7 linked regions of the Homo sapiens genome follow. The protein of the gene in region 6 purifies or fractionates together with the protein of the main gene of each other region. This does not show direct contact. Each region holds a gene or a part of one and is shown on either strand. Other genes may lie near its edges.

Evidence for each region.
Region 1: the proteins of MYO1E (region 6) and ARL14EP purify together in Homo sapiens (co-immunoprecipitation; one study listed by IntAct). This does not show direct contact.
Region 2: the proteins of MYO1E (region 6) and ISOC1 fractionate together in Homo sapiens (co-fractionation; one large-scale study listed by BioGRID). This does not show direct contact.
Region 3: the proteins of MYO1E (region 6) and CTDSPL2 purify together in Homo sapiens (affinity purification with mass spectrometry; one large-scale study listed by BioGRID and IntAct). This does not show direct contact.
Region 4: the proteins of MYO1E (region 6) and PLPBP fractionate together in Homo sapiens (co-fractionation; one large-scale study listed by BioGRID). This does not show direct contact.
Region 5: the proteins of MYO1E (region 6) and KIF22 purify together in Homo sapiens (affinity purification with mass spectrometry; one large-scale study listed by BioGRID and IntAct). This does not show direct contact.
Region 7: the proteins of MYO1E (region 6) and PPA1 fractionate together in Homo sapiens (co-fractionation; one large-scale study listed by BioGRID). This does not show direct contact.

What each region holds. Positions count from the first base shown.
Region 1 is NC_000011.10:30,332,347-30,336,379, forward strand, and holds part of ARL14EP (ARL14 effector protein), read left to right. Parts: intron 1-519; coding exon 520-647; intron 648-4,033.
Region 2 is NC_000005.10:129,100,793-129,105,515, forward strand, and holds part of ISOC1 (isochorismatase domain-containing protein 1), read left to right. Parts: intron 1-4,163; coding exon 4,164-4,283; intron 4,284-4,392; coding exon 4,393-4,596; intron 4,597-4,723.
Region 3 is NC_000015.10:44,514,206-44,518,928, forward strand, and holds part of CTDSPL2 (CTD small phosphatase-like protein 2), read left to right. Parts: intron 1-392; coding exon 393-455; intron 456-559; coding exon 560-639; intron 640-4,723. UniProt on the Homo sapiens protein: Probable phosphatase.
Region 4 is NC_000008.11:37,776,139-37,780,861, forward strand, and holds the end of PLPBP (pyridoxal phosphate homeostasis protein), read left to right. Parts: intron 1-1,834; coding exon 1,835-1,966; 3' UTR 1,967-3,630; downstream 3,631-4,723. UniProt on the Homo sapiens protein: Pyridoxal 5'-phosphate (PLP)-binding protein, which may be involved in intracellular homeostatic regulation of pyridoxal 5'-phosphate (PLP), the active form of vitamin B6.
Region 5 is NC_000016.10:29,800,221-29,804,010, reverse strand, and holds part of KIF22 (kinesin-like protein KIF22), read right to left. Parts: coding exon of another isoform or gene 3,789-3,790; exon of another isoform or gene 3,209-3,788; intron 1,243-3,208; coding exon 1,074-1,242; intron 613-1,073; coding exon of another isoform or gene 563-612; coding exon 403-562; intron 14-402; coding exon 1-13. UniProt on the Homo sapiens protein: Kinesin family member that is involved in spindle formation and the movements of chromosomes during mitosis and meiosis. Binds to microtubules and to DNA. Plays a role in congression of laterally attached chromosomes in NDC80-depleted cells.
Region 6 is NC_000015.10:59,222,359-59,227,081, reverse strand, and holds part of MYO1E (unconventional myosin-Ie), read left to right. Parts: intron 1-2,258; coding exon 2,259-2,393; intron 2,394-3,890; coding exon 3,891-4,023; intron 4,024-4,723. UniProt on the Homo sapiens protein: Actin-based motor molecule with ATPase activity. Unconventional myosins serve in intracellular movements. Their highly divergent tails bind to membranous compartments, which are then moved relative to actin filaments.
Region 7 is NC_000010.11:70,208,860-70,213,582, forward strand, and holds part of PPA1 (inorganic pyrophosphatase), read right to left. Parts: coding exon 4,604-4,723; intron 827-4,603; coding exon 699-826; intron 432-698; coding exon 346-431; intron 1-345.

The sequences.
Region 1 (4,033 bases), on a different chromosome or scaffold from region 6:
ATATATCAGCTGCAGCTCTTTCCTCCCCAAATAACAAACATAAACCCTTAAACACCGAAATTTTGTTTCACCAAAACTTTTCAAAAAGATTATAATACTATTCTAGAACTTGAAATCATATTCTCTGCTCTTAAAAATATATAAAATACAATAATAAGGACCCAGGATTGTTAGGAAATCAGTTATGTGCCACTGGATTATATAGCAGTTTTTGTGCCTTCTCTCCTGTGTTGGCAGCAGCCATTGCAGTTTTCACAATGCCTTCCTCCTCTGCTCCTAATATACCAGAGACTAAAATAAAATAATGGAAATGTTACTAATACATTAACCAATATGCTTTGAATATGGTCTAGGGCCATGTAAATTTTCTTGCACTTAGGCTCTAAAACCTTGTTTTCTTTTTTGTGTGTTCCAGACTGTCTTCCATGTTAGGGAATCGTCTGGTTTAACATTAAATAAAATGTTAATCTGTTGTCTGTTGTCAAGATTTGAGTTGATAATTTGTTTACCTTTCTTCAGGGAAGAACTGCTAAAGCTTTGAGGTCATTACAATTTACGAATCCAGGAAGGCAAACTGAATTTGCTCCAGAAACTGGTAAAAGAGAAAAAAGAAGGCTTACAAAAAATGCAACCGCTGGTTCAGACAGGTAGGCTAAGTGTTACTGAAGACATGTTAACTTGCTGCTTCACATCTGCATTGTTCCCCTATTTTTCTCTTAAATTTTGAATTTTCTGGGTTCATATTTTAAATTGGATAATGTAGAATTAGTAAAAACCTATGAAGGCCTTTGTTTTTATTCATATAAAATTAAGGTATCCCTTTCAACTACAAAAATTTGTTTCTAAGAAGGTAGCAGTGAACTGAAGAAATAATTTTGGCATGAGAGTTAAAATAATTACAATTAAAGTAATTCACTTATTTGAAAAGCATTGTTATTATATATATACGGACATACCTCATTTTATTGGTGCTTCACTTTATTCTTTACAAGGTGCTATTTATTTTTACAAATTGAAAATTTGTGGCAACTCGGTGGTAAGCAAGTCTATTGGTGTCATTTTTCTAACAGCATGTACTCCCTATCTCTGTCGCATTTTGGTAATTATTGCAATATTTCCAGCTTTTTCATTACTGTATCTGTTATGATGATCTTTGATGTTACTATTATAATTATTTTGAGTCACTAGGAACCACACTAATGCAAGGTGGTGAACTTAGTCGATAAATGCTGTGGGTGTTCTTACTGCTCCACCTACTGGCTGTTCTCTAGACTCTCTCCCTCTCCTCAGGTGTCCCTATTCCCTGAGAAACAAATATATTGAAATTGGTCCAACTAATAACCCTGCAATGGTCTCTAAGTGTTCAAGTGAAAGGAAGAGTCAAGTTTCTCATTTTACAAAAAAAGCTAGAAATGATTAAGCTTGGGAGTAAGGCACGTCAAAAGCTGAGACAGGCCAAAAGCTGGGCCTCTTGTGCTAAACAGCCAAGTTGTGAATGCAAAGAAAAAGTTCAGGAAGGACATTAAAAGTACCATTCCATTGAACACAAATGATAAGAAAGCAAAACAGCCTTATTGCTAATATGGAGAAACTTTAAATGGTCTGGATAGAAGATCAAACCAGCTACAACACATTCCCTTAAGCAAAAGCCTAATCCAAAGCAAGGTTCTAACCCTCTTCAATTCTCTGAAGGATGAGAGAAGTGAGGAAGCTTCAGAAGAAAAGTTTGAAGCTAGCAGAGGTTGGTTTATGAGGGTAAGGAAAGAAGCCATCTCCATAACATAAAAGTGCAAGGTGAAGCAGCAAGTTATTAATGAAGGTAGCTACACTACCCAACAGATTTTCAATGTAGACCAGCCTTCTTTTTTTTTTTTTTTTTTTTTTTTTGAGATGGAGTCTTGCTCTGTCACCCAGCCTGAGGTGCAGTGGCGCAAACTCAGCTCACTACACCCGCCACCTGCTGCGTTCAAGCGATTCTTCTGCCTCAACCTCTTGGGTAGCTGGGACTACAGGCACGTGCCACCACAGCCAGCTAATTTTTTGTATTTTTAGTAGAGACGGGTTTCACCATGTTAGCCAGGATGGTCTCGATCTCCTGCCCTCGTGATCTGCCCACCTTGGCCTCCCAAAGTGCTGGGATTACAGGTGTGAGCCACCACGCCCAGCCAACAAACAGCCTTCTAATGGAAGAAGATGCCGTCTTTCATAGCTAGAGAGGGGAAGTCTATACCTGGCTTCAAATCTTCAAAGGACAGGCCGTTTCTCTTGGTAGGGACGAATGCAGCTGGTGACTTTTAAGTTGAAGCCAATTATTTACCTCTTCGAAATCCTAGGGTCCTAATGATGCTAAATGTACTCTACCTGTCCTGTATAAATGGGACAAAGCCTGAATGGCAGCATATCTGTTTACAGCATTGTTCATTGAATATTTTAAGCCCACTTGAGAGACCTCCTGCCTAGATAAAAGGATTCCTTTCAAAATATTGCTACTCATTGACAATGTACCTGATCACTCAGGAGCTCTGATAGAGATGTCCCAGGAGATAAATGTTTCATGCCTCCTAACACAACATTCATTCTGTAGCCCACGGATCAAGGAGTACTTTGACTTTCAAGTCTGTTATTTAAGAAATACGTTTTGTGAGGCCAGAGCTGCCATAGACAGTGAGTGATTCCTCTGATGGATTTGGGCAAAGTAAATTGAACACCTTCTGGAAAGGATTCACCATTCCAAGAGTTTGGAAGAAGATTCGAGTCCTCATGGATGACTTTGAGGGGTTCAGGACTTCAGTGGAGGAAGTAGTTGCAGACGTGGTGGAAATAGCAAGAGAACTAGAATTAGAAGCAGAGCCTGGAGATGTGACTGAGTTATTGCAATCTTGTGATAAAACTTGAATGGATAAGGAGTTTCTTCTTAGAGATGAGCAAAGAATGTGATTTATTAAGGTGGAATCTACTGGTGAGGATGCTGTTAACATTACTGAAATGACAAAGGACTTAGATTATATAAACTTAGTAGATAAAGCAGAGGCAGAATTTGAGAGGATGACTCCAATTTTGAACATTCTACTGTAGGTAAAATGCTATCAAACACCATCACATGCTACAGAGAAATCTTTTGTAAGAAGAGTCCACTGATGCAGCAAACTTCACTGTAGTCTTTAAGAAATTGCCACAGCTACCCTAGCCTTCAGCAACGACCTCCCTGATCAGTCAGCTGTCCTCACTGGGGCAAGATCCTCCACCAGCAAAAAAACTACAACTCATTGAAGTTTCAGATCATTGTTAGCATTTTTTAGCAATAGAGCATTTTTAAATTAAGGTACATACATTTTTTTCTTAGACATAAGGCTGTTGCACACTTAATAGGCTATAGTGTAAGCTTAACTTTTATATGCACTGGAAAAGCAAAAAAATATATATATATATATGTGTGTGTGTGTGTGTGTGTGTGACTCACTTTATTGGGGGTGGTCTGGAACCAAACCCACAATACCTCCGAAATGTGCCTGTAATTCATATATCTCCGTTCTATGGGTAGCAGCTAAAAGGTAATTACATTTTATGAGAATGCAAGGTTTTTATTTTTTACATGTCTGAAATAGAAATGCAGTTCTGTATAGTCAACATAATGAATGGGAGAACTAAATTGTTTAGAATATGACTCTAAAACAAATGTTAATATAATCATTCAGAATTTTTTTTCTAAGTTCAGTCAACATTTCTATATATGCCATGTATTCCATCTGTTAAAATTTACCATTGAGTCATTTAAATATTTTTAGGCCAAATTTACTAGAGTCCATTAAAGAACAAGAAACATTAATTGTAGTATAAAAATCTATAGAGGTGGTATACTATAATAAAAATAAAACTGTGTTGATAAAACAGTGAAGAGGTTGGTAGCTAATAAAGTGAACCACTATTAACCTGTCATTCTTTTTTGTTTGTTTAAAGTAAAGGGAAAATTATGCACTTCAAGAAGCGTATTCAGAATTTTTAGATTTGTCTCAACACTCTATAGAGTTAGGTC
Region 2 (4,723 bases), on a different chromosome or scaffold from region 6:
GAGGATTGGTTGGACATGATTAAAGTTTTTCAGTATGTTTTTGGTAGCCACAAAAGTTCCTTTCTGTTTGTAAGGTATAGACGTTATTCCCCCAAATATCATAGCATAGGGAGGCCATTAAAAAAAAAAAACTAACTTTTTATTTTAGAATAGCTTTAGATTTACAATAAAGTTGTAAAGATAGTACAGAGAGTTCCTATATTCCTGTACCCAGATTCCCTATTGTTTTTGTTTGTTTGTTTGTTTGTTTGTTTGTGAGACAGGGTCTTGCTCTGTTGCCCAGGCTGGACTGTAGCCTCGACCTCCCGTTCTCAGAGGATCTTCCCACCTCAGCCTCCTGAGGAGCTGGGCCACCAAGCTCAGCTAATCAAAAAAAAAAAAAAAAAAAAAAAAAAAAAAAATATATATATATATATGGTTGGGTTGGGTGTAGTGGTTCACACCTGTAATCCCAGCACTTTGGGAGGCCAAGGCAGGCAGATCCCTTGAGCCCAGGAATTCAAGACCAGCCTGGGCAACATGGTGAAACCCCATCTCTATTAGCAGTACCAAAATTAGCCGGGTGCAGTGGTGCACGCCTGTAATCCCGGCTACTTGGGAGGCTGAGGCACAAGAATCGCTTGAACCAGAAGGTGGAGGTTGCAATGAGTCGAGATCACGCCACTGCACTCCAGCCTGGGCGACAGAGTGAGACTCTGTCTCAAAAAAATATGTTTTGTAGAGACAAGGTCTCACTGTGTTGCCTAGGCTGCTCTTGCAATCCTGGGCTTAAGTGATCCTCCCACCTTGGCCTCCGAAGTGCTGGGATTACCAGCATGAGCCACCATGCCCAGCTGGATTCCCTAACATTAACATTTGATATTCCTGCAGTACATTTGTCACAACCAAAGAACCAACATTGGTACGTTACTATTAACTAAACCACACTTTATTCATATTTCACTAGCTTTTCCCTAATGTCCTTTTTCTGTTCCAAAATCCAAACTAGGATACCAATTACATTTTGTTGTCTTGTCTCCTTTGGCTCCTCTAGTCTATAGCAGTTTCTCAACTTTGTTTTTAATGACCTTGACAGTTTTGAGGAGCACTGGTCAGATATTTTGGTAGAATGTCCCTCAATTTTGATTCATTTGATGTTTTTCTCATTGTTGGATCGGGGTTGTGAAATTTCAAGAGGAAGGTCACAAGGGTCATTCTCATTACATCATATCAAAGGTACATGTTATTAACATGATGTCATTAATGACATTAATCTTGATCACCTGGCTGAGACACAGTCGTCAGGTCTCTCCATTGTAAAGTTACTCTTCCCCCTCTATACTCTCCTCATAAGAAGCAGAGTACTAAGTGCAGCCACATTCAAGAGGATGTTGGGAGTTAAACACCTTACATAGATACTCTCCACATCATATTCAACAGCATGTGGAGAATGTCTATGAAAGGTAGGGTATTTTTTATTCAGTAAATTGTAACCTGTACTCTGCTTTAAAAACATGCCTTGCCACTGTATTCTCTATGGTTTCTTTGTTTACTGAGTTTGTGGATGGTAAGTTCCTATACTAGAGAGATTTCCCAGGGCAGTGAGGATTTTAGGGCTGTATTTTTGACCTCCTCAATGTGTGTCTAATATGACACATCTGATGCAGTCCCCTGTCCAGAACCCATAGCTAAAATGAAGGGCAGGAAACACCAGCTAGCAAGAACTGGAGACCACAACTCTGGATATTAGGATTCCTGGGTAGGTAAGGATTTATTCTTTTAAACACCTCAACTTAAAAATATCTTGACCATTTTATAATGTAGTCCTTCTGAAATATATAATTTAACAGTTTTCTTAATGAGTGTGCTGGAATGATGTTTTCCTAATTTATAAGTTAGAACAGCTTTTTACTCTTCCACTGGAGGTCTAGACTGTAGCATTATTTGAGTTTTGATCTGTTTTTATTGTATTTTGAATCTTTTCTCTGTCAGCCATCATTTCTTGCTGCTATCAGTTTGCCTGCCTCCAGCAGTTTCCTTTCTGATTTGCTGTTTATAGCCTTCTGTTAATTTAGAATCCAGACAATGAAACTTGTTAGGAATGTATACAGAGGTAGTCAATACAGTATAAAATAGGATCTGAGAGCTGGAATTCTAAGCAAGTGTAAGCTCTAAGCATGTTAGTGAATGGCCTCCACCACATTTACGCAACTGCCCAGGAATTTTATTTTTCAAATTTTTTTTTGTTTTTGCTGGTTCTCACCTGTTGTGAAACGGTGAGACTGGCTTACTTGCATTATGGTTATTTCAGTAGGCCTGCTGCAGGCAAACTGCTTTATGTAGTGTGCCCTAAACACATTGTGGATGCCTACGAGTCCATGATTCAAATTTATAAAAATGTAGATATTGAGCCTTTTGAGTCAATATTTGATGTTTACAGAGAATTTAGTGATTGGTTTTTAAAATAGTATCCTAAATGCACAAAAATTAGCCTTCCCAGCAATGCATTTATATTTGTATATAAGATCCTAGTCACTGCTTTTGAAAATGACCAAAGCAGAGGCATAATACTTGCATTTAAAATTAAGCAAAGAAACAGCCAAAGCTAGAACATATAATATGCTTGAGAATTTATTTTAATCATGCTTTATTGGAAAAGTAGGAAAACCCTATACATAGAGTAAGAATTACAGATGGCTCTCACATTCTAACATGAATTTGGTATTGGATTGTGCATAGCTAGTTAATACACATCTATAGAGTCAGTACCAGAGGGAGATTAAAGTGCCAGGGTACTTCAGACCAGGACATAGATAAAACAAAGTGCAAACCAATTAGAACAGTTATATCATTAAGGATTAAAGATTTCTTAATGGTTAATTTAATTCATGTAGTAATTGTTTCCAGAGAGTCAACCCCTGCAGAGATACTAAGGAGAGTCTAAGGCTGTGTTGGTGGTGAAGCCACACCATGTAATCCAGACACAGACTCCTTTAGAATATTATTAATAATAGTTATCTGTAGGTGGTTTTAGGGGAAACAAAGTAGGATAATTAGAGGGATGATTTAAGGGAGCGGCTAGTAAGGGTATTGATAATGGTTCATTCAGGACCAGAACACATCCTTTACAGTACTTCCTGCAATTTGCAAAAGAAAGAAAAGCACCTCAGACTTTTAAGAATCCAGTGAGAGTAAATTCTCATATTTAATGGTGATTTTTGCTTTTTGGTGGATCCATATTGGGCCCAAATTGTTATAGACCAACTACAGCAGCTAATATGAGGTTTGGTAATCTAATATCCACTTTTCATCTTAATTCATTGACTTTCCTTATCGTGATAACTATAGTTTAAGAATGGAGATGTCAAATATAGGTCTCTTCCTTGTGAAGTAAACGACAGTTCATTTAACAGCAGTGGTGTGCTTGGTATCATTTCGTTGCATTTTGTTTGAACTCTAAAAATTATTCTTGAGAATAGCATTTTCATATTTCTGTCTTGATGATAGCAGTAATTCTGGATTTGCTTCTGTCTGTTTTTTGTTTTTAGTTTTTATGTTCCTGCTACAGATATTTTAAGTTTTACTTTTTATACTTACAAGCAGCAACATCAGATTTTTTTTCTATTGTAACACTTTTTCTGATTATAAAGAAATTTCTTTAAATAACATTCAGGAAATGTGTTTAAATAACACTTGGAAAATATAGGAATGGTATAAAAAAAGAAATTACCAACACCCCAATTATATAACCACTTGTTAATATTGTAATGTACTACTACTTTTATTCATATTTTTACATTATTGAAATACTATTGAACTGCACTTTTTAAAAATTAACATTATGAGTATTTTTCCATGGATGGTATGAATTCTTTGAAGACATATACATATGTTTTTTAATTGGCTAAAAAATGTTTTGTCATGTGAATGTGTTAAAATGTGTTATATCATATCTGTATTGTTGGCTGGTTCATTTCTAATTTCCGCTATTAAAAGCAATTCAGAGAACATCTTTTTGAGTTTTTTTTTTTCCTGTAATTCAGATACTTTTTTTGGATAATAGCGGTAGAAATTGACTTACTGGCTCAAACAATAGGACCATTTTTCTTCCTTTATTGACCTCCACTGAAAATAAATGTCATTGTACAACAAGTGCTAAATCATTCTTTTTCTTTTTTCCTCAGCTCACTACCCTGGGAAATCTTACACCTTCAAGCACTGTGTTTTTCTGCTGTGATATGCAGGAAAGGTTCAGACCAGCCATCAAGTATTTTGGGGATATTATTAGCGTGGGACAGAGATTGGTATGCTTGTTTACTTATTTGGTCATATTTGCTGAATCATCATATACACTCATATATACACATATATGTATATAGCTAATTGTTTTTGTGTTTGGTTATTTTTTTTCAGTTGCAAGGGGCCCGGATTTTAGGAATTCCTGTTATTGTAACAGAACAATACCCTAAAGGTCTTGGGAGCACGGTTCAAGAAATTGATTTAACAGGTGTAAAACTGGTACTTCCAAAGACCAAGTTTTCAATGGTATTACCAGAAGTAGAAGCGGCATTAGCAGAGATTCCCGGAGTCAGGAGTGTTGTATTATTTGGAGTAGAAGTAAGTACCTGTTACTATCATTTAGGCACAATATTATTTATAGAAAACTCAATATTTGTGGAATGTAATTTCATATATGGTATGCCAGGTAGGCAGTAATAATGAGGAAAGGTAGCCACCATGTATT
Region 3 (4,723 bases), about 15 Mb from region 6:
TTGAGACAGGTCAGCTAGAGGTGGACACAATAATTGGATGGATGCTACCTGGCTGGAAGATGGAGCTTACTGGTGGATCAAAATCTCAGAGGGAAACTTTCCATTTTTAGCTTAAATGTTTATTAAAATTACATACCAGTGAAGTACTGTATGCTGCTATTAGTAAAAATGACTTGATCATCAGTGATTATTATTATCCCACCAAAGAGATTGGTTTAAGTGATCGCTTGTATGTGAAATATACTTGGTTTGAGTGGTACTTAGTTAATATTTCTATACTTTAAAACATGAACTTTTTCATTATAATCAAAGTTAGAATACAGCACATCTTAAAAAGAAGTGGTTTCCCATTGTATGTTTATTTGCTGAAACTTATCTTTGTATTTCCTTAGGTTTATGTGAGATTAAGACCATTTTTCAGGGAATTCCTGGAACGAATGTCTCAGATGTATGAGGTAAACATGCTTAAGCTAATTACATATGTATTTTTATTTTATTCAATATAGTACCCATATTTAGACCATGTATAATGATTACTTCTTTTCCCCTGAATTTATAGATCATTCTTTTTACTGCTTCTAAGAAGGTGTATGCAGACAAGTTACTGAACATACTAGACCCTAAAAAGCAACTGGTCAGGTAAATTTAATTAAGAAATAGTGGAAATGTCTGTCACACTGATCTATGAAATTACTGATTCTATTTCATTTTAATGGCCATTTTCAGTTGGCTGCATATGTGTTGAATGGTGAATATAAATGAATTTTTTAAGCCCCTAAACTCTTTAAAAGAGTTCCTAATGATGGAACTCCAGACAGACGTTCTTTAAAGGATACAAAGATCCAGTGCCTTTATTCACTGTGACATCTATATCCTCATTTCTTTTGGGATTGGGGAAGACGGGGGTTGGGGGGGTTGTGTGGAATTTTTCCACGTTGTGCATGATGTTTCATCTCCATATGTCTCTGAGGTAATGCATGTTAATTTACTTTTTAATGGCATAGAGAAATAAAAATTATTTTTTAACAGAAAGGATCAAATTAAGCCCTTGCTTTTTTTGAAAGCAAATTTATCTTCCATGGAAAGAAAATGTTACATGAATCTGATTGGAAATTACAGTGGGTTTAGTCACTCAGGTTATCCTGACTGGACTCAGTTCCTTGTGTGTGCCCTGAGCCAGCAGATGCAGTGTTTTCCTGGTTAGTGGGAGTGCCGTGGTGATTTTAAAATATTATGATAATTAGTTCCATTATTTTGTCAGCTGAAGTGAGATAGTAAGACTGCAGCAGTCTTGCTGTATCCTTTAAGAGGAGGGGTTAATCTTTGAATTTTTGATCAAAAGCTGAGAGAGATGACACAAACGGCTCATAAAAGCTTTAATAGGGCCAGGCGCGGTGGCTCACGCCTGTAATCCCAGCACTTTGGGAGGCTGAGTCTGGCTAATCACCTGAGGTCAGGAGTTCAAGGCCAGCCTCACCAATATGGAGAAACCCCGTGTCTCTACTAAAAATACAAAATTTAGGTGGGCGTGGTGGCGCATGCCTGTAATCCCAGCCACTCGGGAGGCTGAGGCAGGAGAATCGCTTGAACCCGGAAGGCGGAGGTTATGGTGAGCCGAGATCGTGCCGTTGCACTCCAGCCTGGGCAACAAGAGCAAAACTCCATCTCAAAAAAAAAGACTTTAATAGCTGGGTTGGTTGGTTGGTTCGTTCGTTCTTTCTCTCTCTCTTTCTTTCTTTCTTTCTCTCCTCTCTCTTTCTCTATTTCTTTCTTTCTTTTTCTTTTTTTTTTTTTTTGAGGCGGATTCTCACTCTGTTGCCCAGGCTGGAGTGCAGTTTGCAATCTCTGCCTTCTGAGTTTAAAAGATTCTCCTGCCTCAGCCTCTCGAGTAGCTGGGACTACAGGTGTGTGCCACCACACCTGGCTAATTTTTAGTGTTTTTAGTAGAGATGGGGTTTCATCATATTGGCCAGGCTGGTCTTGAACTCCTGACCTCAAGTGATCCACCCACTTTGGCCTCCCAAACTGCTGGCATTACAGGCGTGAGCCACTGCACCCAGCCCAGCTGAGTATAAATTTTCTTAAATACTTTTCCCATGTTGTCTTACTGGAAAATCCTAAAGTGTATTTTCTGCTGTTAACAGTACCTTTATTATTCAGTGGTTGCAAGTATACTGAAAGGCTTTTCCTAATGTTCATATTTTGGAAGGTTTTTTATTCTAAATAAAGCTGTGGTATCTTTTGTTTTTTAATCTAAAGGGTCAAAATAAGTAAGCTGCAGTCACACAAATGGGAAATGGTATTTTCTGTTCACAAAAGTATATTGTAATTTATGCTAATTTTACCTCACTTTACTAAAGTATACCCAGTGATTTTGTTTTGATGACTTCATTCATTATAATGATTTCTGTTCAGCATCTCCAGTATTCCAGGGAACAGTGGTGAGCAACACAAGCTCTTCCCTCTTGGAGCTTTCATTTACTAATGAGGAACAAATGATAGTCATGTTATGACAATGTGTTATAAATTAACAATCCTCTTTTAAACTAGATTTATAAAACCTACACACTTGAGGGTTTCCATTTGTTCTATCTAGATGTATTTTGAGAAATCTGAAACAAAAGCTTGTTTTTTTGTTTGTTTGTTTGTTGTTTGAAACAGTCTTGCTCTGTCACCCAGCCTGGAGTGCAGTGGTGCGATCTTGGCTCACTGTAAACTCGGCCTCCCAGATTCAAGCGATTCTCCTGCCTCAGCCTCCTGATAAGCTGGGATTGCAGGCGCGCATCACCACGCCCAGCTAATTTTTGTATTTTTAATAGAGACGGGGTTTCATCATGTTGGTCAGGCTGGTCTGGAACTCCTGACCTCGTGATCCGCCCACGTTGGCCTCCCAAAGTGCTGGGATTACAGGCGTGAGCCACCGCGCCTGGCCAACAAAAGCGTTTCAAAGAGTAGATTGTGAGTGCTATAGGGAATTGTCTGTGTTGGTGACAAGGTAGACTCTAAGAAATTCCTATGATCTAGGCTGAGTGCCGTGGCTCACGCCTGTAATCCCAGCACTTTGGGAGGCCAAGGCAGGCGGATCACGAGGTCAGGAGTTCAAGACCAGCCTGGCCAACATAATGAAACCTCGTCTCTACTAAAAATACAAAAAAAATTAGCTGGGCATGGTGGCAGGCGCCTGTAATCCCAGCTACTCGGGAGGCAGAGGTTGCAGTGAGCCGAGAGTCTGCCATTGCACTCCAGCCTGGGCGACAGTGGGAGACTCCGTCTCAAAAAAAAAAAAAGAAGAAAAAAAGAAATTCCTGTGATCTCTAAATCTCATGAGTTTCTAACACAAGTCTGTACTCACATGGATGATCTGCTCTTTGATGACTGGTACAAATAGTTTTTTTCTAAAAATGCAAATACATGCTATACACCCTCAGATTCCTGAATGAATAATTGGAAGGCTTTTACTGTAATTTAATTAAAATAACTGTAGTATCCACGTACAGATTCAGTTGTCTCCTGTCTCAATGAGTTTGCCACTATCGGTGAAGAGGCATCAACAGTGACTTGAATTTACATGCTGTATCTGCCTTTCCAGTTTCCTCATATCTAAATGTTTATAGAAATAAAACAGTGAATCTTATTTAGGCCCAACCAAGGCTTGAATTAATTTACTTAGTCTTTTTTGTTGTTGTTTTTTCAAAGTAGAACTGACTAAACTTTCCCGGGGCCAGATGATCGTTTGACTGTGATTATTAAAGTTATTCCTTATAATAAGGGGGAAAGAACTGCTTATACATTTTGTCTGTTCGTTAAATTCTTCCTTTTTGCCATACCAACTGGCACTGATAATTTTAAGGTTGAGTTTTTATTTGTGTGTGTATATGTAGATTTTTATTTATTCTTGGTAGCACTGTGACAGATTTTGTGGGTAGAAAATACCAGTTTCTTGAAATTGCATAATTTAAAATACAGGTCCAAATAGGTCCTAGATTTTGTAAAATTGTTAGTGTGATTAAGACACAAGGAAGACAACTTACCAATTATTAATATATACAGAATAGAGTACTTCAAGGTAGAAAAAAATTATATGAAACAATTATTAGTAATGTTCAGAGACTAGTATTTTGAGTATAAATTGAGATTATAATAATCACTTTAGTATTGTAAAACCTTTAATAGCTTTCTAAAATGATGTAGTATTTTTCTATGTGAGTGAAATATCAGTTTACATTTATAATACTTGATACTTAAATCTGAATTCCTCATTTCACTTAATCTTTTTTCAAATGATCATACACATATACTAAAAGAGGGGTGTTTAGGAAAAGTTGAAATGATGGAATGTTTTGGTCTTAGGACCTTTTCTCAAAAAAAATAAGGAAATCTAAAAAGCATTTTTTCAAATGCCAACACAAAAACATTCCTTCTTATATTTTCTATTCTGGCATGTACAGGGATAGGGAGGCTGTGTGGTCCACTGGTTAGAGCCAAGGACTGGGAGCCAGGAGGATCCTGGGTTCCAATGCGGGGCTAACCACTGACTTACTGTGTGACCTTGGGCAAGTCACTTGACCTCCTTGTTCCTCAGTCAACCATCTGGAAAATTGGTTAAAAAGCAGGACCTCGCTGACAACCAGATGCTGCATCTGAGCTGAGCTTTCTTGGGTAAATAAATTACAAAAACAATTTAGAGTTTTTAATCCCCCTTTATAATTTAATAATAACATTT
Region 4 (4,723 bases), on a different chromosome or scaffold from region 6:
CCCAGTGTCAGCTATTCCAGCATCTCCCATTCCCCATGCCCTTTCTTTTTTGAAAAGAGCCAGGTGCGGTGGCGCACGCCTGTAATCCCAGCACTTTGGGAGGCCGAGCCGGGCAGATCACGAGGTCAGGAGTTCGAGACCAGCCTGACCAACATGGTGAAACCCCGTCTCTCCTAAAAATACAAAAATTAGCTGGGCGTGGTGGCGCACGCCTGTAATCCCAGCTACTCAGGAGGCTGAGGCAGGAGAATCGCTTGAACCCAGGAGGCGGAGATTGCAGTGAGCCGAGGTCGCGCCACTGCACTCCAGCCTGGCTGGCAACAGAGCGAGACTCCATCTCAAAAAAAAAAAAAAAAAAAAAAAAACAAAAGAAAGAAAAGAAATGTATAGAAATTATAGCCTGACATCTGAACTTTTAAAACAAAATATAATTCCGTAAGTGTAATCTAAAGGAAATAAGAAATTAATTATAATTATAATTTCATAAATTATAAACATAATTCCATAAGTGTAGTCTAAAGGAAAATAAGAAATTAAGCTATAATTTTTGGAAAGGCATTTCATTACGTAAGTGCGTGGGCATGGCTGTATCACAGCAAATCACGATGAAGCAGCCTAAGGCTTCATGTTTGTTTGTTTTTTTTTGGAGACTGAGTCTCGCTCTATTGCCCAGGCCGGAGTGCAGTGGCGCGATCTCAGCTCACTGTAACCTCCACCTCCCAGGTTCAAGTGATTCTCCTGCTTCAGCCTCCCAAGTAGCTGGGATTACAGGCGCCTGCCACAATGCCCAGCTAATTTTTGAATTTTTAGTTAAGACAGGGTTTCACCGTATTGGCCAGGCTGGTCTCGAACTCCTGACCTCAGGTAATCCACCCACCTAGGCCTCCCAAAGTGATGGGATTACAGGCATGAGCCACTGCACCCGTCCGAGGCTTAATCTTATGTGTAGATTCACCAACAATCTTATATGTACATCAACAGCTGTAAATATCAACTGATACAGGTGTGCTAGATTGGCAACGCAAATACATGATTTTCTGAAATAGCAAATAACTTGATAAAGTTTCAAAAATCAAAATATAAACTTGCATTCCTGGAAAATTGTATTTCTTAAAACAGTGCAAAAATACATTGCATTGATAAGTAAAATGGAATTTGATCAGATAATTATAAGGATATTTTTTTCATCTACCTGACCGTGGCACATTGGAGAGGTAGGTGGGCTGTGCTGTGTGGCTGCGTCTCACACTGGACGTCTAATGTCCTTGACCCCCTCCGAGCTGAGTGCCAGCCACACTCTCCAACCACTGGAAATCCAGAGAAACCCAACTTGTTTCCTATATATGCCCTCAGAGGCAATTTTACCTCTGAGGAGAACAATCATCCTGAAGCCATCTTCAGCTGTGTTATTATTCATAGAAGGCTCTGTTTTTGTTTTTTTTTGTTTTTTTTGAGATGGAGTTTCGCTCTTGTTGCCCAGGCTGGAGTGCAATGGCGCAACCTCTGCTCACCGCAACCTCCACCTCCTGGGTTCAAGCAATTCTCCTGCTTCAGCCTCCCGAGTAGCTGGGATTACAGGCATGTGCCACTATGCCCGGCTAATTTTGTATTTTTAATAGAGACAGGGTTTCTCCATGTTGGTCAGGCTGGTCTCAAACCCCTGATCTCGTGATCTGCCCACCTCGGCCTCCCAAAATGCTGGGATTACAGGCGTGAGCCACCACGCCCCGTCCATAGAAGGCTCTTGAGAGCCAGAATGGGGGCACAGCTTCAGCACTGGCTCCATTTTATTATTTTAAACCTGGTCCTCGATACCTTCTCTTTTTTCCCACAGGTTGAAGTAGGATCTACAAATGTCCGAATAGGAAGCACGATTTTTGGAGAGCGGGATTACTCAAAGAAACCCACCCCGGACAAGTGCGCAGCAGACGTGAAGGCCCCGCTGGAGGTGGCACAGGAGCACTGAGCCAGGGAATACTGAGAGCACTAACTATGCACTAACCTAGATTTTCATTTCGATATTCCCTGTGTCCCAGCGCAGTCCTGCTCTCCTGTGACCTGTGGAGAGCACTAATGATCACGTGTGTTGATGGAAACCATCTGTGCTTAGTCTCTGACATAGGAAGCTTGCTTCAGGCAATGGCTTTGGATTGAGTTTGAGAAATTCAAACATTTCTGCAGAACAGATACCAAATCAATAGCTAGGAATCATGTTCAATATTGAATTCTGCCCAGGAGCATGAACTGATCCATGAATGCCTTTTCCAGGTTAAAATTTGGTCACTGATGCCTATAATCGTGGAAGTCAGAGGGATTCCCCTTTTTCATCTCATTTTAATAGGAAAATTCCTTATGGTTAACATCTCCCTACAAACTCCTACTACGTCGTCTAAATTGCTGCTCTGGAATAAGGTGATTTCTGCCCCCAGATTCTTCCCTAGCCGGTAGATACGTGAAGATATTCCCAACTGTGGAATGGCAGTGTAGGTAGCTTCAGGAAATGGCTCAGGTTAATTCTCAAAACACAAATTGTTGCTGGCCAGGCATGGTGACTCATGCCTGTAATCCCAGCAATTTGGGAGACAGAGGCGGAAGGATCACCTGAGCCTAGGAGTTCAAGACCAGCCTCAGCAACAGCAGGAGCCCCACCCCCCGTCTCTACAAAAAAATTTAAAAATTAACTGGGCATGGTGGCTGAGGTGGAAGAATGGAAGAATCACTTGAGCCCAGGAGTTTGAGGCTGCAGTGAGCTATGATTGCACCACTGTACTCCTGCCTTAAAAAAAAAAAAAAAATCCCAATAGTCCATGAAGGCTTTGATCTCTTGGGAAGTTCTTCATAGATGCTGTCACATTTCTTAAAGCAACCTTTTAATATGCAGATAATACCCCCCAACTTTTTTAGAGACAGCCTGTCTCTTAAAAAAAAAATTAATTTGGTAGTGAGAGCTTGTGTCACTGCCACTCTGTTTTATCCCTGAAATTAAAGGATAACATAAGGAGGACTTGGGCCTTTCTGACATCATCCTGAAGAGACAGGACTTTGCGTTTTTCCTCTGGGACCTACAGTGATGAGAATTTAATGATTATCTCCTCCACTATAATCCTCTTTAGGGTGATTTTTTAAATCAAAACCCAGTGAATCTCATTACTCCTAAGAAACGAAAGATTCCTTCAAAGCCTTTTCAGGCACATGGTTTCAACAAAGCCTGGCTTTGACATTCCTTGTCCTGAGGAGCACTTTCCAGGCATAGTTACAGCTTCCCCACTGTATTTACAAGCCAGAATTGTGCAACTCTTCTGGATCATTAATAAAGTAGCAAGATCCTCAAAAAACCCAAAAACACCATTCTCTAATAGTCATGACAAATGGCTTCAGTATGGCTTGTTTTTTATTTTCCAGATGGCTTTTTCTCTTATTTTTTGAAGCCCCAGTCTTTGATTTTACAGGTAACTTTCAAAACATCATGATGCTGCCAAATGTACTTTTGTAAACTTAAACATTATGATTCCTGTATTATTTCAGTGAGAGCTACAGTGTGATATTTCAGAGTCTATTAAATAAAAATGTGAGTTTGAATTACACCATCTGTGCCAATTACAAAGCAATTAAAAGATTTATTTTTTATGATCTGGTGTAGTGACTGAATATAACAGGTGGGGGCATTGGAACCGACGGGAAGCAGCTATGCTGGTGCCTTGGCATTGTGCCAGCCTGGCTTTGGAGGAGGGCTTCCCTGGGGTCACAGACGCAGCCAAAGCTACACCATGGGTGAGAGGGATTCTGAACTTCTAAGGGCAAGAAAAAGGACATTTCAAGAATTACAAAAATAGTTACCCCTCACTGCAAGAGACTTTTGAATTGCCTCTAGATGGCGACATTGGCTAACCTGAGGGACAAGCACTGGCTCTCCACTGTCAGTAGTTTACCTTATGAGGGACTCCTGGTTACTCAGTCTGGTGGAGGCCAGAGAGGACATGACGCTCTCAAGTGATAGTGTGACTTGCAGAGCCTCAGGGGTTCGATACCAGCTAGCCTGGGCAACACGGTGAAATCTTGTCTGTACCAAAAATACCCCGCCCAAAAATTAGCTGGGCATGGTGGCACATGCCTGTGGACCCAGCTACTCCAGAGGCTGAGGTGGGAGGATCGCTTGAGCCTGGGAGGAAGAAGTCACGGTGAGCTGAGATCGCACCACTGCACTGCAGCTTGGGTGACAAGGTGAGACCCCATCTCAAAACAAAACAAAAACAGCGAATAAGGAGGAAAGCCAGGGAAGGCTCAATCAGATCTAGATAAGGGAAGGACACCAAAGTGTGTCTAGGGTGTCCCCAGCAGGATGGGATATTTTGCAGAGAGAAAATTGAGCCAGGTTGTGAGTTTGTCTTTCGTTACGCATGATGGGTGGCAGGTTGGGTTTCTTCCAGATTTTCATGAAAGCCAGTTCCTGGAGTTTGGACGGCTTGCTCTCCTGGATTGGGCCCACCTGTGCAGCCTCACAGTCTCTGAAGGCGCTGGGCCCTTGTCTGCCCTGAAGCCAGCCTCAGAAGGCTTGAGACGCCACAAAACCTCCCAATAGTCCATCAAGACTTTGATCTCTTGGGGAGCTCCTCACAGATTCTATCACAGTTCTTAAAGCAACCTCTTAATACTCAAATGGTACCCCCCACCTTTTGTTTAACATTGATGGCATATGCAGCACTATTCTCTATATTCTCTCATT
Region 5 (3,790 bases), on a different chromosome or scaffold from region 6:
GCCTGCTCCTGAACTGAAAGTAGGAATCGAGAATTGGAGTCAGGGCAAAGGGTACTTTTCACCCTCCCTGGTAGCCCTTCGATTCTTCCATTTCTGATTCCCCAGCTCCCCTCCATCCAGAGTTAACCTGTTGTGTTTCCACATGACCTTTTTTATACCCGCATTTAAAGGAATTTCAGTCAGTCTTGCATTATCTTCAATCCTCTACTCGTTTGTCCATCCCACTGTCCTAAACACCCGAGGGCAGAGCACCCCCAGCACTGCCTCAGAGCCTCCTCACCCCTCCCTGGGACTGGTATGTGGTGGGAGAATATGAATGACATGGAGACAGCTGCTCCTAACACTTCCTCCCTTATAGGATCTCAGCTGCCTTGGCCCCCCAGCCCCTGGAGTCAAACTTACTTAGCTGTAGGGGCATCACCACAGCCTTTTTCAGGGGCTTTGCCCCTGTGACTGTGCGATGTGAAAGGGGCCGGAGCATTGTGGGACAATGGTTCTCCTTTTCCTCAGCCTTCTGGGCCAACATCTTGGCCTCCAGTTCTTTTTGCTTCGTCTTAAGCCTCTGTTGGAAAGGATCAGGGAGATGTGATCCAGACCCAACTCCAGGGCAGCCTGAAGGGAGTGGGTTACCAGGGTGAGTATGCAAGGCTCTGAGCCCCCAGAGGGCAGGGCTAGGACCAGTGGGAGGTTACCAGGAGACAGGTGGAGCCTAACATAATTAAGGGCTTTCTGTGATTAGGGGGCTACCCAGAGGTGGAACAAGCCTCTGCAAATATTGAAGGGAAAGGCTTTTCAAGCACAGTCCTCAATTAATTGAGCTGGGCTTTAGGAAATGTAATGTTTAACATTTGTTGCTTTTACTTTGAACTTTTTCTTCTCACCCTCACATCTGGTCTCAATTGTCTGTCAAAGTTCAGCCATGTTAAGGACATTCAAGCAGAAGCTGGAGAACTTCCGGTATTGGGAGAAAACTGGACTCTAGTCCAGCCTGAGTGTCCTTCCCTGTCTGAAGATCCAAGGATTGCTTCTCAAGGCCAATAGGAATCCAGCTCCCACATCCCTAAAACACGTACCTCAATCTCTAGGTCCTTCTCTTCCACTGTCTTCATTAGCACCATCCGCTCTCGCTTTGGGGTACTCAACAGAGGGGCCCCCTGGCTCCCCTGGGAGGCAAGCAGACGGTCCAAGCTGAGGAGGCGCTCCAGCATGGCCGGGTCCATGCTGCTTAGCTTCTGTAGGGGGCTGAGCAGAAAAAGAAGTTGCTCCCCACCTACCTCCTCCCTCATCACCACCTACAGCAGCAGGACTCCCCTCACCACACCTTAACTTGGTATATCCTGTAGCTCCAGAACCTAATGTTAACTTGCTAGGCATCCAGTTTCTCTGGGTGCAGTGTCTTCATCAGGTGAAGTGACTGCTCGGGGATGCCAGGAAATCAGGCGAACACTTGAGTGCCAGGTATGAGAGACCTAAGACACTGCCCTGCCCTGGAGGCACTGTCTACTGAGGAAATCAAGAGACCATAATAAGGTGACAGCCAGGACAGTGCCTATCCATTTGGAGGAGCAGTTGCGGAAAACATCACAGAGGATGCCATCTTTAGCAGGGCTTTGAAATCCACCGAAGACCTCAGCTGCCAAGCTTCCCTGCTGTGGGCAGCTGGGAAGGCCTGTTCAAGCAGTCCTGACTGACTCTGAGCACGGTAAGGCTTAACATTCTTTTTTTTTTTTTTTTTTTTTTTTTGAGACAGGGTCTTGCTCTGTCACCCAGGCTGGAGTGCAGTGTTGAGATCACAGCTCACTATAGCCTTGGCCTCCTGAGGCTTAAGCAATCCCCCTGTCTCAGCCTCCTGAGTAGCTGGGTCCACAGGTGCATGCCACCATGCCCAGCTAATTTTTTTATTTTTTGTAGAGATGGGGTCTTACTATGTTGCCCAGGCTGGTCTTGAACTCCTGGGCTCAAGTGATCCACCCACCTTGGCCTCCCAAAGTGCTGGGATTACAGGTGTGAGCCACTGCGCCCAGTCAGCAACGTCTAACATTCATTTATTTTGCCTGGAATCTTGCCCCACACCTCCTCACATCTGTATCAATAATCTTTCCAGGTCAGTTTGATGCCACCTTTCCCATGACGCCAAGCTTAACAATGCATCTCCCTTCCTATGCTGTGAACTGGCTCCTGGAGGACAGGGACACTCCTGTGCTTTCCATGCTAGTGCCTTGGAAAAACAGGATCAGAACATACGTGGGCAAACACTAGAAGTCATCTCTTCCTTCCTGACTCTCACAGCAGCAGCAGCTACTCCTTCCTGATTCTGAATTCTCCACCTGGTATCATATACTGATGTTCCCATCTGACTTGCTCTCCTGTGAGGCCCCCAAGCTCTGGGTCTGCTGGGTTTGATGTGCCCAACTCTGAGCTTCCCCTTACTCAGAGTGCCTGTCTGACAGCTTACCTGTGCACATTTCTGGGTGCACACAGCAGTGGGGAGTGCTGACAGATGGTTTGGGAAAGACAAGACTGAGAGATGGGGTCATGAGTGCACAAGCATCTTCTTGTGTGTGGCATCTTCCTTAACTACAGTAGCCCCCTGGGACAGAGTGGGCACTAACCCTTGGCCACCTCAGGTCACCTCTGTTTAGTAGTTCACAGGCTTTATTTGGGCTAGGGGTAGAAACAGGGCAAAGTTAAAACTGCAACTGGCTCCTGGGGGGTGGAGGGAATAGCGCAAGGGCTAAGTGGCCAGACACAGAAAGCAAGACCCCTGAACAGAGATGACCTGAGGATTAGTACATACTGGGCCATGAGGTGGGGTGATTGGAGTTGGGGCAGGAGGTGACACAAAGGACTTAGTTTAGAGGCTTTATCTGGATTGAGGGTAGACGCAGTTAGGACAGCAGCTGGCTCCCCGGAGAGTCATGGAGAAGCTGGGCACTGACACACAGACCAGATGGTCTCAGCAGGACAGCTCTTCCAAGTCTCCTTTGCTTTGCTCTCATGGATCTGAAAGATCTGATCCAGATCACTCCTTGAACCAGAAGCAAAAATGCTCATCCTTGAAACAGCTGTCCCAAAGTGAGAAGTTTTGCTGAAGGCTAAAGGGGTTGGAAAATGGAAAGGATCCCCAGGAGGAGGCCTCCTTAGGTCCCCAAGGCAGCAGCACTGAGGAGAGATTAATCTTAGACTTTAGTGATTCAATGGAGTAGAATTTGGGGGGAATTTATTTATTTACTTATTTATTTATTGAGATGCAGTCTTGCTCTGTCACCTAGGCTGGAGTGCAGTGGCATGATCTTGGCTCACTGCAACTTTCACCTCCCAGATTCAAGCAATTCTTCCTGCCTCAGCCTCCTGAGTAGCTGGGATTACAGGTGCCCACTACCATGCCTGGCTAATTTTTGTATTTTTAGTAGAGATGGGGTTTCACCATGTTGGCCAGGCTGGTCTTGAACTCCTGACCTCAGGTGATCCACCCGTCTTGGCCTCCCAAAGTGCTGGGATTACAGGCGTGAGCCACCGTGCCTAGCCAGGGTTGAATTCACTTATTTACTTTGAGACGGAGTCTTGCTGTGTCGCCCAGGCTGGAGTGCAATGGCCACAATCTCAGCTCACTGCAACCTCTGCTTCCTGGGTTCAAGGGATTCTCCTGCCTCAGCCTCCCAAGTAGCTGGGATTACAGGCACATGCCACCACATCCGGCTACTTTTTGTATTTTTTAGTAGAGATGAGGTTTCACCATGTTGGCCAGGCTGGTCTCGAACTCCTGACCTCAGGTGATCCACCCAACCTC
Region 6 (4,723 bases):
TGCACCAAAGCAGTGGAGGTGGGAGAGGGAAAGCCAGTCAGGGAGCCCGGCCTCAGCCTGCCTGCAGGGCAGGCGTCTCCAGAACGTGAGCTACCGGAGGAAAGATTTGAGATAGGTTTGGGATCTTTAATGCCAAATTGAAAAGTTGCCACCTAGACCCTCAGAAGTCATGGAGAGTTTGGGGCCAGAGCAGCTTGCAGGGTGCTTTTTGATTATGTTACAGGCTTCAGCAGTCATCTGAGTCAGCTACTTTTATTTTATTTATTTTTTTATTTGAGACAGTGTCTTGCTCTCTTGCCCAGGCTGGAGTGCAGTGGCACAATCTTGGCTCACTGCAACCTCTGCATCCTGGGCTCAAATGATCCCCCTGCCTCACCCTCCCAAGTAGCTGGGACTATAGGCACATGCCACCACACCTGGCTAATTTTTGTATTTTTCGTAGAGGTGGGGTTTCACCATGTTACCCAGGTTGGTCTCTAACTCTCGGACTCAAGTGACCCACCCACCTCAGCCTCCCAAAGTGCTAGGATTACAGGCGTGAGCCATTGCACCTGGCCCTGATTCAGGTACTTTTGTAAAAGGTTTTTAAGTACTTAAAAAATATAATGATGTTAATAACCAAATTTTTTATGTTCTATTTACTTATTAGTATTTTATATTGAAGATCCACATTAGACTTTCTTCGAAGAAAGACCTGGTCACTGTTTTTTGTTTTGTTTTGTTTCATTTCGTGTTTAGTTTGTGGATCACTGGATTAGAAGGACATTAAACTGTGGAAGTAGCTCACATTCAATCTTTTCAATTACACACACATCTTAGGCAATGCCAAATAATTCTTTTAGTTTGTACCTGTTGGTTGAAAAAGTATATAAATGATTAAAACTTCTGTGAATTCAGTCATTTTTAAAATTGTATTAAAGCAACATATATAGATAAGTGAAAAATAATTATATATTTCACATAAATAATACCCAGTGCTAGATGGAAGTGTATAATGGATGTCAGGACTTCTTTAAATAAATGCAAGCCCCAACCCTCCCCCAGGAGTTCTCTGCCCTTAAGTCAGAAACCACCAGAATAGAGGCTGGGAACTGATGGGCGCAGGGGTTCAAGATTCTGACATGAAAGTAATTCTTGGCTGGGTGCGGTGGCTCACGCCTGTAATCCCAGCACTTTGGGATGCCAAGGTGGGTGAATCACGAGGTCAGGAGATCGAGACCATCCTGGCTAACACAGTGAAACCCTGTCTCTACTAAAAATACAAAAAATTAGCTGGCCGTGGTGGTGGGCGCCTGTAGTCCCAGCTACTCAGGAGGCTGAGGCAGGAGAATGGCGTGAACCTGGGAGGCGGAGCTTGCAGGGAGCGGAGATCGCACCAGTGCACTCCAGCCTGGGCGACAGAGTGAGACTCCGTCTCAAAAAAAAAAAAAAGAAAAGAAAAGAAAGAAAAAGAAATTCTTGAAGCTACGAAATACTTGGGAGTGGATGTGGGGAGAAAATCCTGCCACACAGGACCAGGGGACTTTCTAGATATGTAGGATCGGGAGGCATTGAAGAGCCAGCAGGGAAGTAGTTGAAGGATAAGGAGGAAAGCCAGGATCCTGCAGTGTCACCAAGCCAGGGAAGCCTCAGGGCGACATCGACAGGATCAAATGGTCAGAGCTCTTGGGCAAAAGGGACGAGCTGGGGTGTGGGGGCCAAAAAAAAGGCTGTTGGATTTAGGCACTGAAAAATAGCCATGCAAGGGTTCCGCCAGAGTGGTGAGGGGAGAAGCTAGAATGCAAGTGGTTATGTCATGGCAAGGAAGTAGATCCTGCAGCTTGGAGAAGTTCACAGTCAAGGAAAAGCTTCTAAAGAAGGCAAAGAGTACCAGAGAGCAGGAAGCTGCATGGCAGTTTTTTAACATGCACCCTGCAGTGAGAAACATGGAAAAGCCAGCTTAAAAAGCCATAGCAAGTTGGGCAGGAACTAAGTAATTAAAATCTGTTTTGCTTTCCACTCTTCCGAGGGTGGCAGTCCAGTTCCTTTCAGTGGACAATGGAAAATCCTCAGCTCTTGCAGGTCTTTCCAGAGTTAGGAATCAAAATTTGCAGAGATGACCTGGGGCTACTACAAGTACATATTTGGGGGCCAGGACTGCCTGTAATTTTAGAAAGCAGAGATAGAAAGTCCTTAGGGATGGTGGCTGCAGGATGCAGGAGTGACTTCGGGTGCCTTGTGGTCCACATCATGGCTCAACCTGTGTTCTCTTGCTCCAGCTCATCGAGGGCGCCTCTGCAGAGCAGAAACACAGCCTTGGCATCACCAGCATGGACTATTATTACTACCTGAGCCTCTCGGGCTCATACAAGGTTGATGACATTGACGACAGGCGGGAGTTTCAGGAAACTCTGGTAAGTGCTGGCGCAGGGCCAGGCAGGATCTGCTCTCCCAACTGGCCATTTCCTGTGGCCAAAAGGGCAGTGAAGGTTAATAAAGCAAAGAGCTGCATGAAATGTCCGCCTCTTTCTCTGTGAGCACTCTGTATGCTCATACATGTTTCAGTATCCTTAAACAGCCATGTGCCAGTTGCCTGAGGACCACTTAATGATTTGAGATGGGTAAAAAGAAATGAATTCATCATTATCACCCTGCAGGAGCTCTGATAAATAGGCAAAAATGATTCATACGTTGAGCATACCTGTTTGCTGATGGCCTACTCTATTCGTGAGCTATTTCCTTAGAAAAGCTAAGCAAACCGCACGTCTATGGACTGAATAGGTTTAGACATTTTGGAACGTCTTTAGTCTTTTCTCTTATTTCTTTTCTGGTTTTGAAGACTCTCTTCCCCTCTGTATTGTTTAGGGCAGAGGACCCTTTTTCTGTGCCATGCCCTTCACATTGCATGTATGTTATGGTCCAAGCTGTGAAACTAGGTAGATTATGGAGGGGTTCCATCCTGGGGGCAATAATGTAGAACTTTCTGGAGGTAGGCTGAACACCCACTTGGCCTCAAAGGCCTTCATTGCCACCCACTGCCCTTTGAGTCTGTTTCAAGCTGGGGACTATTCCTCAACCCAGATCCAGAACTGAGCAGTAGACTCTGAATGAGCAGCGTGGGTTCAGTACATTTGTGGTTGAAAGGGACAGAAAGTTCAAACAGACTGTGTCCTGGGTGCCAGGAAACAAAATGGTATCAACAGGTCACATGGCCTCAAAGCAGCTGCGGGGAAAAGTGCCAATAAGGAGTCTGCACACTGGTCCTAGAGTGTAGTTTTCTTAGGAGATGTTTCTCTTAAGATTTAGACATTTTAGCGGTATTTATTGCATTTAAGGGACCTCAGAAACTGGACTTTTAAATGATGCTTTTATTGGATTTCCTGGAGATTTTTCATTAAGATCCTTTTGCAAGTACAATATATTCTTATCCCTCCTGATGAAGGGAAAGATCTCGAGTCCACTTTGAGTAGGTGGAAAGGTCAGCAGCGACCTTCGAGGGGAAGCTGGCAACAAGAACACATCAAAGGATGAAGACAGGACTTGGAGACTTTGTGTACAACTACCACTCTTCCGAGTCTCTTTCCTCCTGGAGTATTCTCTTATTCCTGGAGGATGGCATGCTATGCTTAGAGACAGAAGTGCCCTTCCAGCATGACTTTGAGACGTGAGAAGAATGTGTGCATTGGGCAGTGACCATGTTGTACAAGAACGTCCTGCTGTCATCACAAGCTAAGCCACATGTGACTGCACAACCCAATCTTATGTTTTGGCTTTTTTTTTTTTTTTTCTTTGTAACTCGTCTGTACTTGTCACATCCTTATTTAGAGCAGCTGCTGTGCCTTGGCTTCTTCCTAAGGTGCTTTTAAAGCTGGTGACCAGCTTCTCTGGATAGTTTCTCTTTTCTCTTCCAGCACGCCATGAATGTGATTGGGATCTTTGCAGAAGAGCAAACGCTGGTGTTGCAGATAGTGGCGGGTATTCTCCACCTGGGAAACATCAGCTTCAAAGAAGTTGGCAACTACGCGGCTGTGGAGAGTGAAGAGTGTGCGTAGCCCTGGCATGTGGCCATTGAATGAGGGGTGGCTAGCTCTGATTAGAAGTAACCTAGCACTTTCCTTTGCTTAGATCTCAAATGGGAATATTGGGAAGAAGTGATAAATCTACATGTCCTCTGTGGCAAACAGAATGGCTTCACGAGAGACCAGACCTCTTCTATGCACCTGTCCCTGTCCTTACCCCCAGCCTTTCCAAGTCCCACACCATCGATTATTAATGGAATCGTTTCAATTTATCATTAACCTGGGGAAAGCTGGGAGGATTTCACACCTTGGTTTAAAGATAAAGTGATCTCTTTAATGGGGATTAGAGTAATGGCTTAATGCAAAAGATTTATTGTCTTTATCAAAACCTTTTCAGTAACTGGTCTTTAGGATCTAAATTCACTTACAGGTTTTAAAGAGCAAGCAATATAATATATGTAAATATGGGAAGCTCACAGCTTCACAGTTTGTTCCATGGATTGGATTACATTGGATTTCTGAACACAGAAAAAGATGGACATTGACTGTTGTGTTGACATTTCTGATGATCACTTTTAATGATCACATCTGTATACCTGGAGCCTCAACACCTAAATGGTCGTTTTTACTCTTTGAGAAAAAAAATCAGGGTTCTTCCTACAGAGAGGTGCTGCTGGTTACATGTGCCCAAAATCTACCATAAATACAGCGGCACATGACTTTAG
Region 7 (4,723 bases), on a different chromosome or scaffold from region 6:
ACGGCTCACTGCAGCTTCAACCTCCCCAGGCTCAGGTGATCCTCCCAACTCAGCCTCCCAGGTAGCTAGGACTACAGGTATGTACCACCATGCCCAGCTAATTTTTGTACTTTTTGTAGAGACAGGGTTTTTCCATGTTGTCCAGGCTGGTCTTCAACTCCTGGGCTCAAGCAATCCATCCACCTTGGCTTCCCAAAGTGCTGGAATGACAGGTGTGAGCCACCGCACCCAGCCTTGTATCTCTTTTCTAAGTGAAAGTAACAGTACAGTGTCTTATGATTATTAAAACCTTTTCTGCAAGCTGGTCTGCTTTGTGTGTTAAACATGCAAAGTGTTTACACTTACCAACTGATTCCTTTTCCATTCGTTTTCTTAGTCACTAATGCTTTCCAATGGTCATGAGTGCTTTTAATAATATCAATGGCAAAGTCCTATAATTTGAAGAGGTTTGCATTACAATGATAAAAAGGTATTATTTTCCTATTATCAACATTTCCCCAAAGCCTGATACTTTGTCTCTTCTGAATCATTTCCTTATTCTAAAAATGGAAGAGAATATTAAAGTGAATAAATAAACACCAAGACTGTGTTATGTTTCCAGACTTCTGTTTTGTGAATCTTTAGATGGTAACAATATGGTTAAATTATGAGTCTCAATACAAATGAGCCTAAAGCTACAGTTCTGAATGACATATTACCTTATCTTTAAATTCTGCATTAAACGCAAACTCATTTTCTGGTTTTCCATCAGGAACCTTATACCTTCTAAACCAGTCCACAGTAGCTTCTAAGTAGCCAGGTTTCAGCCGTTTGACATCATTGATATCTAAGAAGAGAAGAAGCATAAGATGACAGTGAGAATGATTTTTTTAAAAAGAAAGAAGAGAATAAGCAGATTTCAAGATGCACAAATAATTATACACTCAACAAAAATTCCAAGTACTTATTTTGAAAGAGCTGTGGAATGACTTATCACGGAAGTTCAAGATAACATTGGAGCGAAGCCCCTTGTTGAGAAGAGAAGCCATACACATATACATTGAAAGAAAATCATCTAGTATCTCTGAATAGCTCTGACACTAAGTACAGAGAACAATCAGTACAATAGTAATCTCTGTTAGGTAAGGGCAAACAGCTGGTGGCTACATAATGAAACAACCAGTTTGGCAAATGTAGATAATTCCTATGAGAAGTGTACAAGATACTGAAAAAGACAGAGGTTATCTTTTTTTTTTTTTCAGAGACAAGGTCTCGCTCTGTCACCCACGCTGGAATGCAGTGGCCCGAACAAGGCTCACTGCAGCCTTGACCTCCACAGTTCAGCGATCCTCTCACCTCAGCCTCCTGAGTAGCTGGGACTATAAGCATGCACACGCCCAGCTAATTTTTAAATTTTTTGTAGAAATGGGGTCTCGTCATGTTGCCCAGGCTGGTCTCAAACTCCTGGGCTCAAGCAATCCTCCTGCCTTGGCTTCCCAAAGCACTGGGATTACAGGCTTGAGGTACTATCCCTGGTCCAGAGGCAGAGGCTATGTCAGAGGATCACAACACTATTACATACTAAAAGATAAGAAAAATAGATTAGATTGATATCCATTGATGGGTTACGTATTAAATGTGACTAGACTTTGCTGGATAGTACAGGCACTGTACATAACAATACTTTAGTTCTGGCTGACAGAAAAGTGCACTGCTTTAAAAATTTTAAGTTTCTGTATAGCCATCAACAATGGCTAGCCTCAATGTTATCAAACTGCACTTCAAATAACAAACTCCTGCTCAATGCAAGCAAACAGAGATACACATCCTAAAAAGTCAGTTAGGAAAAGTATTATGAGGAAGAGAAATACATTCAACAATAACAAAAGCTTATTTATATTTGTATAAGATAACATTGCTTCACTCCAATTTATTTTTTTTTTTTGAGAAGGAGTCTCGCTCTGTCTCCCAGGCTGGAGTGCAGTGGCGCAATCTCGGCTCACTGCAAGCTCTGCCTCCCGGGTTCACGCCATTCTCCTGCCTCAGCCTCCTGAGTAACTGGGACTACAGGTGCCCACCACCATGCCTGGCTAATTTTTTTGTATTTTTAGTAGAGATGGGGTTTCGTGTTAGCTAGGACGGTCTCGATCTCCTGACCTCATGATTCGCCTGCCTCGGCCTCCCAAAGTGCTGGGATTACAGGCGTGAGCCACCGCGCCCGGCCGCTTCAATCCAATTTATAATCTGCATAAAGAATAGCATGCATTCTATTATCATAATATCACTAAAAGTATGGAAACTTTACAGAATGCACTGGGAAATGTTTAAGCACTAGTAAATTTCAAAGAACTTATAATTTACATGAAATGTGTCACCTGATATAGAAATAATTTGGAAATCCAGAAATCCAACATGCAAATGTTGATGTTTTCCAATAACAGAAACTAATTCTCCAATTATTCAGACACCAACTGAGTGCTCAGTAATTCACTGTGATTCTGATACTATCTACCTGGAGTTAGCATCAGATCTCAAAGGTTAGGGGCTCAGTCTCACAAGACTGCCCCACTTCAGATGCCTCCTGTACTTTTGACTATCAGCTATAAATTAGGGGTTTCTACAATCCTCTCCCCAGGTCCCCTAATTTGCTAAAATGGTTCACAGAACTCAGGAAAACACTGAAGTTTAAATTTCGTTATATAAATACAACTCAGGGACAGCAAATGGAAGAGATGCACAGGGGCAAGCTATAGGATGGACAATAGACACTGCCTTAGGTTGACATTAGGGAAAGCTGCATACTACTTGCGCCATGGGACCAGCCACCCCGAGAAAGTTTTCAGGGTTCTAATAACCTGAACTGCAGGAAAATAAAGCCTTAGTAAATGAGTGCTGACAGAGTGATGGGCTTGGCTTCACTAATTGTGGCCACAGCATGCCAAGTTCTCTTGCATAAGAAGCACGTTGGAAATGCACACACGGACCAACAGAACAGAGCCGTACTACCAAGTAGTGAACAGATGGTGTGAATGCACTCTCACCTTTCAAAATTGAAACGAAACATTAAAGGATTGGCATTCTTCCAGTCCTTCTTCAATGAATTAACACAGATGCAAATATACATCACATCATTTTGAGGGAACATGCTCTCAAGGTGACTCTTATCACTGCTGACATTGACCTCCATCACCTGGCTGAGGCAGTGTTTGTCAAGTTTCTCTGCTCTAAAGTCATCCTCTCCTCTCCCTTACCCACACTGTACTCTTTGGAAGGAAGTCACCAGGCACAACTCACAATTAAGGACCTCCTTGAGAATGGAGTATCTGCATAAATTATTTGGAATTCTTCTGCTTTGAGATTTGTCTATTCTTCCTCATTTGTCTATTTATTCAATCATTTATTTGTCAGTATAGACTCATGGAGATTTATTTTATGTTCCAGGTTATATTACAATACTACTTTATTTTCTTGCTCAAAGTGTTCTAGCTTTGGCAACTCCTATGTATGTACCCAATAATAAAAACATAAGTCCACACAAAAACTTGTACAGGAATGTTCATGGCAGCATTACACAGCCAAAACAACCCAAATGTCCATCAACTGATGAATGGATAAACAAAATGTAGTATATCCACACAATGGAATAATATTCAACCATAAAAAGGAGTACTGACAGATGCCACAATATGCAATATGGATAAACCTAGAAAACATTATACTAAGTGAAAGAAACCAGAAACAGCAACAACAAAGATCCATATATTGTACCAGTCCATGTATATGAGATACCTAGAATAGGTAGAATAGGCAAAGCTATAAAGACAAAAAGCAGATTAGTGGCTGCCAGGGCCTGGAGAGGAGGAGGGAATAGGGAATGACTTGAACTAGTGGTGATGGCTGCACAACCTTGTGAATGAATGAAATGCCACTGAATTTCACACTTTAATTAAAATGGTGAATTTTATGTTATGTAAAATTTACCACCAAAAAAAAAAAAAAAGGGAATGAAGTGCTGATACATACTACAATACGGATGAATCCTGAAGACACTTACTTCGCTAAGTGAAATAAACCAGACACAGAGGCCACCTATATGATGCCATTTACATGAAATAACAGCATAGGCAAATCCATAGGCACAAAGTAGATCTGCAGTCATCAGGGACTGAGGGAAGGGGGACAGGGAGTGATTGCCCATGGATACAGGATTTCCTCTGGGCTGATGAAATGTTCTGCAATTAGAGAGTGGTGATGGTTGTACAACTTAGTGAATATACTAAAAACCACTGAATTGTACATTTTACAATGGTGACTCTTTGATATGTGAATATCTCAATTAAATGTTTTAAAATAAATAAACATACCAACTGAGTGCTGGTATGTGGGGAAGGAAAGGACCAAAAAAACAGTAAGAACCTACCAGATTTTTTCTTTCCTGGAATGAAGGAGAAAGTTTACTTAGTTAATTACAAGTGCAGTCATAGAAATAATGCTTGTCCAGTGCTTTGTTCCTCCATCCTTTAACAGTTTGAAGGTAAGGGCTTACAATTCTGTCATTATAGGTTAAGTATGGTGGTGCTTATGAATTAATTAGAAAGACTTCAGACTTTTCAAATTTTCTTACCATTATAATTGGCTGCATCAGGATCATCCACATTAATGGCAATGACTTTCCAGTCGGTTTCCCCTTCGTCAATCATAGCCAATATGCCTAGAACTTTCACGCCAATTATTTCACCTCTTG